Regions from separate parts of the Homo sapiens genome. Here region 2 is linked to region 1. The links come from fine-mapping of genetic effects on gene expression. A gene starts in region 1. The other region holds a variant in brackets. All regions are shown on one strand. Distances are from middle to middle.

The links. PIP is the estimated chance that this variant, and not a neighbour inherited with it, causes the effect.
Region 2: its variant is fine-mapped to the expression of TBL1X in whole blood (TOPMed, PIP above 0.99).

What each region holds. Positions count from the first base shown.
Region 1 is chrX:9,463,404-9,466,305 of GRCh38, forward strand. TBL1X (transducin beta like 1 X-linked) reads left to right here and starts at 1,655. Exons shown (of 18, transcript NM_005647.4): 1 at 1,655-2,044. RefSeq lists enhancers at 255-1,083, 911-1,110 and silencers at 1,341-1,920, 2,041-2,180, 2,481-2,630.
Region 2 is chrX:9,716,594-9,719,495 of GRCh38, forward strand. It overlaps TBL1X (transducin beta like 1 X-linked), which reads left to right. Exons shown (of 18, transcript NM_005647.4): 18 at 1-2,902. Among named protein-coding and RNA genes, the nearest start is that of GPR143, 48 kb to the right of the region's middle. The variant C/G (reference allele first, on the strand shown) is at 1,493.

The sequences.
Region 1 (2,902 bases):
GGCAACTGATACATAATAAGACACAATCTATTCTGCTGATTCACAATTATGGAGACTGTGTAAGTGTGTATTTTTTTATTGATGTCCTCTAATGATGGTGTAGCAACAGTCGTTTTGCATCATTGACGTTTTACAGCAATATTTTGCAGGGTAATTTTGAGGTCCGCCGTTTTGGTGGAGGACCGGCCTCTTAAAAACTCACCTCCGGCCGGGCACGGTGGCTCACGCCTGTAATCCCAGCACTTTGGGAGGCCGAGGCCGGCGGATTGCCTGAGGTCAGGAGTTCAGACCAGTCTGGCCAATATGGTGAAACCCCGTCTCTACTAAAAATACAAAAAAAATTAGCTGGGCGTGGTGGCATGCGCCTGTAATCCCAGCTACTCGGGAGGCTGAGGCAGGGGAATTGCTTGAACCAGGGTGGTGGAGGTTGCAATGAGCCGACAGCGCGCCACTGCACTCCAGCTTGGGCGACAGAGCGAGACTCCTCAGAAAAACAAAAACAAAAACAAAAAAACAAAAACCTCACCTTAGGTCCCCCTCCCCCTACAACCAGAACAACAAATGGTCTAGAGTTCGAGGAAGAGCAAGTGAGGTTATAGTTTAGATTGCTGAGTGTACCGGGCTCTTAGCACGAAGCTCATTATATAGTAAAGGAAGGGGCAAGAATATTTGAAAAATATTCAACGAGGCTGACCCCAGAGGTGCTGGGGAGGGGGAGTGGAGATCTGTTTAACTGAATTAAGGCTGCGAGTGGTTGGGAGTAGCCTACGTGGAGGGGAGGAAGGAGCGCTGGGGACTTAGGTACACCGGGGCCAGGCCGTGTAAGCCATTGCAACATAAAGCACTTTGCAAGGGCCAGAGGGCTGATGCCTGGGGGGTTGGGGTGGGAGTGATGAGGCCCGAGTGCCCAGGTCCCCCCAACCTCCTCAGCCCCCACACCCGAGTTCCTGGCGCCTATGCCTGTGTGTCTGAGTTTGTCCCTAAGCATTTCTGGCTCTTCTTGGGAGGTGTTTTGCAAAGGTCGAGGCTCCGCCGGAACCCCCACTTTTTGAGCTGGGGTAAAGACTACTGGGGTGTCTTCTAAGACGCCGATTTTGAGGGAGATTCACCATCGGGCAGGTGGCAGGGGGTTCTGTTGGGGCAGCCGGGTGGCTTCCTTTTTGGGGTGGGGGAGGGTAACACTTTAGCAGTGATCGAGGTTCCCCTGCCCCCTAGAAACTGAGGGGGTGGCCGAGGTTCCCGTCCCCTCGAGGCAGTCGTGGAAAGGCTGGGTTTGGGATGTGATGGGGGTAGCCCTGGGGTCCTCTCAGTCCCACGGAGGCCACGGGGAAGGGACCGGGACCAGAGCAACTAGGGAGAGGCCCGGGTTCCCCTCACCCACCCTAGGCGTGGGGGAGCGGGGCGGGCTTGGTAGGGACGCTGGTCCCCCGACCGTGGGACAGGGGCTGGGTTGGGACGCGGGTCCCCACTAGGAGCCGCGGGGGAGGGGCAGGGCCGGAGTCCCTACCCTCGTAGGGGAGGGGCTGGTTCGGGACGCGGCTCCCCCGGGGCGCAGGGGCGGGGCCGGGTGGTACGCCGGGTCCCCTCCCACGGCCGTGAGGGAGGGGCCGGCGGCGGGGGCGGACCCCTGGCGGTCCTCCTGGCTGGGGTCCGCGCGCTCGCGGCAGCTCCCCGTGGAGGTCACTGTCCGTGCCAGTCCCTCCCGCTGTCCCGCCCTCTCCCGCTGCCGCCGCCGCCGCCGCCGCGCCCGCCTCAGCGCCCCCACTCCGCGCTTGGGAGCGAGGAGCCGCCAGCGCCCCCGCCCCGCCGCCGCCGCAGCGCCCTCAGGCCGCCATTCGCCACCGAAACTTTCCAGCGCCCGCGCTCTCTCCGGGACTCGGCGGCGGCGGGGCGGGGGCGGCCCGGGGGCGGCGCGCGGCTGCTCCGGGGCGCCGGGCCCTCTTCGGCCGCCGCACGGCCGGGACTCGGAGGCTGCCGGCTGGAGGGAGGTTCGGAGCGCGGCCGGGCGCGCGGCGCCGCCACAAGTTGCGCTGCTCGCGACGAGGTGAGTGCGCAGGGCTCGGCGGGCCGGGCGCGGGGTCCGCAAACTTCTGCGGGGAGGCGGGTCCCGCGCTGACCCTCCAGGGTCCGGCCGGCGGCTCGGGGCGCCCGAACGCTCCACCCGCCCCTGGAACTCCTGTAGGTGCAGGTCGCCAACTGTCCCCGCGGCGCTCGGACTGGGGTGCGGCGCGCTCCCAGGAGCCTGAACAATACCCCGAGGTGGCCGCTCCCCGAAGTGCCGGCGCGCCTTGCGGGGAGAGACGGAGGTCGGCGGGGGGCTCCTTTGTTTTGGGGAGGGGGAAGTGGCCGGTAAGTTTAGGGAAGCGCTCGGCTTTTCCTCCGGTGCCCCTTTGTCTGCCGATTCAGGGGCTTGCTGGGCAAACCTGCGCCACCGCGGGCTCCGGGGACCGGGGTGGAGGGCGGTGGCGGGATTTCCCCGCTGTTGGGGAGAAGAGCCCCATTCATACCCGGGACGCGGGCCGGCCCTCCCGGACCCGGGTGGAAGCGCAGCCTCGCGGAGTGGGGCAAGCGGCGGGCGAGGTGGCGCGGGCCCCGTGTCTGCTCAGTTTCTGACGCGCAGAAACTGTCAAGGAAGTCGGGAGCCCCAGTCCTCCGCCCATCTCCCCGGCCTGAGCGCACGGCTGGGCTGGGGGCACCCTTGGCCCGTCGAGGGTCTGCAGAGCGCCGCCCGGGGAGAGCGCAGACCTGTTGCTGCTCCTGGGCTCTGACGGGGCGGGTGGGGTGGGTCTCGCAGATCCTGGGCCCCGGCCTTGCTATCCAGGGGGACCTTCCCTAACGATGGGACCGGTGCTCGGAGTGGAGTATGGGGAGTGCGCCTTCGGGAGTCGGCGCTGGCCGGATA
Region 2 (2,902 bases), 250 kb after region 1:
CCAAAAAAAAAGCAAAATGCTGTGATAAACCAAACAGGGAAGGGGGAAAAACCCTCCTCCTTGGGATTTTTTTTTTTTGTTTTCCCTAACAATTTGGACACTACAATTGCTCTCACAAAGGAGGTTCAAAGACCAGTTTGTACCGATGAAACGCGCAACTTTGTAATCCCAACACTTTCTATTTTCTAGAATCTTCTTTGTTCATTGGGTGGTTTTTCAGTCGGCTGGAATTCTATCTTCTGGGGGCCTTCCGTCTGAGATGGAAGCTGTCTTGGGCTTGTTGTCTCTTCCTTCTGTTGCTCCCTGCCCCTCCCCCTGCCTTTCCACTCTGTCTGGTGAGCTCTGCTTTTTCAGTGCACCATCAAGAGATGCAGCCCCGTGGACATGAAGACACAATCTCCCACGGACAGCTTTCCCCCTTCCGCCCTCTCCCACCCTCTCCTCCCCTTGCGCTCGCGCTCGCGCTCGCTTTCTCACTGGCGTGCTCTCTTTCTCTCTCTCTCTCCCTCTGTACCTTTCTCATAGTTGCTTCAGATCTTAGGTCTCAAGGGCACTTTGGCGCGTAGTAAGTGCTTTATGTAAGAAGGCAGGGCAGGGGGGCTTTTTACAGGAGAAAAAAAAATGACTTATAAGAGAAAGAGCCTGGAGTATTTTTGGAAAAAAAAATAATATTTTTATGTTAAAACAATTTTAAAATCTTAAAATGGCCATCAGACATAGAGAGCTTTGTGTGATTCATGTTTTAAAAAGAACCGAAGAAGCCACAGGCAGGGCCTGAGGGAGCCCCTGGCTTTCCCCTCAGCCTCAGGAAAGGTGGTCAGGAAAACTCTGGCTGGACAAGGGTCAGTCTTCGGGGTCAGCAGCGAGATTGCTCTGCAGCCAGTGAGGGAGGTCCCCGCCATGCCGGCTGGAAGAAGAACCTCGCATCTTTTGGTGTGTATGCACCTTGGCAGCCAGCAGGAAAGCAGCGAAGAGCCGCGCGCCCTCTGGCCTCAAGGGAGCATTGGCAGAACCATAAGGTACTGCAGAAGCCGTCGAAACCGACTGCTCGGCTGGATTAGGCGTGTTGGCTACATCTTTCCCACAACCGTATAACGACCGATGGTCATTTCTCCAAGAGCAGGCTTGGCGAGTCCTTGCAGAGCTGACATAGAGGCGCCCGCATGTCACTTAGTCTAACGCTGACAGAAATGAATGCAGAAGGAAGATTTTCAGTCCTGAACGTGAATTATAGAGGTAGAACGTCGCTAATAATTTCTGCCATCTTTATAATTTCTTTGTCTCACAGAAGACTAGGAGAAAGATCTTTTTTAAATAATCTTTTTGCTGTTTTTAAAAAATTAAACAAGGCTTTGTGTTCCTAGAAGAGCTTCATTTCAGTGAATCTGGTGACCTCCATCTGCTTGCTGTCATAACCCGACACGGACTTATTTTTGTCATTAGCAAGGGGGAAAAGGCCAAAGGACAAGGGCCTCTTCTCCCATTGGTTTTC[C/G]TGTGGGCAGAAGGGCTGAGGAAGATGGCCCAGCCCGTGGGGGCTGCTGGGTCACCAGCAGTGGGTAGGGTGCAATCTGGTGTGTGTTCCAGCAGTGAGACGGTGTTATTGTGAAGGTGGCATTCATCTGCGGAGCCAAAACCCAGCCATCGGGGAAGGGTCAGGGCTTCTGTGGAACTTGGAACGTGCCAGGACCACCTGCAAAAGCCAGGGTGCGTTGATCATTCTCAGATCATTGATTGGCCTCCACTTGGGTATGTGAATTATTCATGTCCCAGAAGACCAAAAAGTGCTCTGGTTCTGAGATGAGTATTTTATTCGTGTTCTGTTTCCGAAACACTTAGCAAAGAAGGTCACAGTGATGTGGAGTCGCCGCACCCATCTTTGAAGATAGCCAGTGTCCCTGGATGAGGTGATGATTTCCCGTCCCAAGGACTCTGTGAAGTTTAGAGTACAGTTTGTTGGGGTCCAAAAGACACCATCTCTACCCCACCCAAATAAAAATGCACTCATCTCTGTAGAACATCTGCTGTCAAAGGCCAGCCTGTCGTTAGGGCATGGCTTATGCTTGACAAACCAGTAACAACTGTGGGATGGCGATGGTGGGATGTGTCGCAAGCAATTCACTAGACAATCTTCACATGAATGTCGGTAGCCAGGGTCTCTCCCGAGGGATGGCTTTAGTCTTGATGAATGTGAACCATGTCGGAATTGTTAGGTAGAAACCTGGGCTGGGAGGCCTCGGACCCCAGGCTCCATCCCTGGCTTCCCCAGCCTGCGGCCGCAAGCAAAACCAAGCGCGAGATGCAGCTAGCACCCTTCATATCCATCCCCGTTCTCAGCGGGACAACACCATGGACAGCCGTTTTCAGAGCCTCCAGCATTTGCACACCACTACTCACCCTCTCTGCTGCTGGCATGTTGGTAGAGTCATCCCTGTAATCAAGAAATGGCCTGTGGAATGTTATTGTTCAACGTTGTTTACAGCTCTTAAAACATGGTGAGGAATGCCTAAGTCTTAGTGACCAAACGTGACCTTGAAAGCAGACATAGCATGACAGACCTTCCTAGAGTGTTTGGTCGGGTTCACAGTGACCGAGAGTCAGGTCCAGCACACACCTGGGAAAGGGATGCTGCCCCAAGGGGGACCAAAAGGGCCGGACGTTACAGGGTGAAACCCTCTGACCCCTCGCGACACCGTAGGACTTGACTTTTGTTTAGTCTTTCTAAGAAATAGATCATGGAGCCAAGTGAAGTGCACTTTGTCAAATGTAAGGGTCTGCTTTGTTCTTGTTGCTTTTCTGTTTTTTAACCTTTTGTTCCGCCATTTAAAAAAAGAAAAAAAAAAAGCTTATGTTTCTTGTCAAATGCAGAAATGTTCCTTCCGCCACTCACTGAAGTTTTGCATTC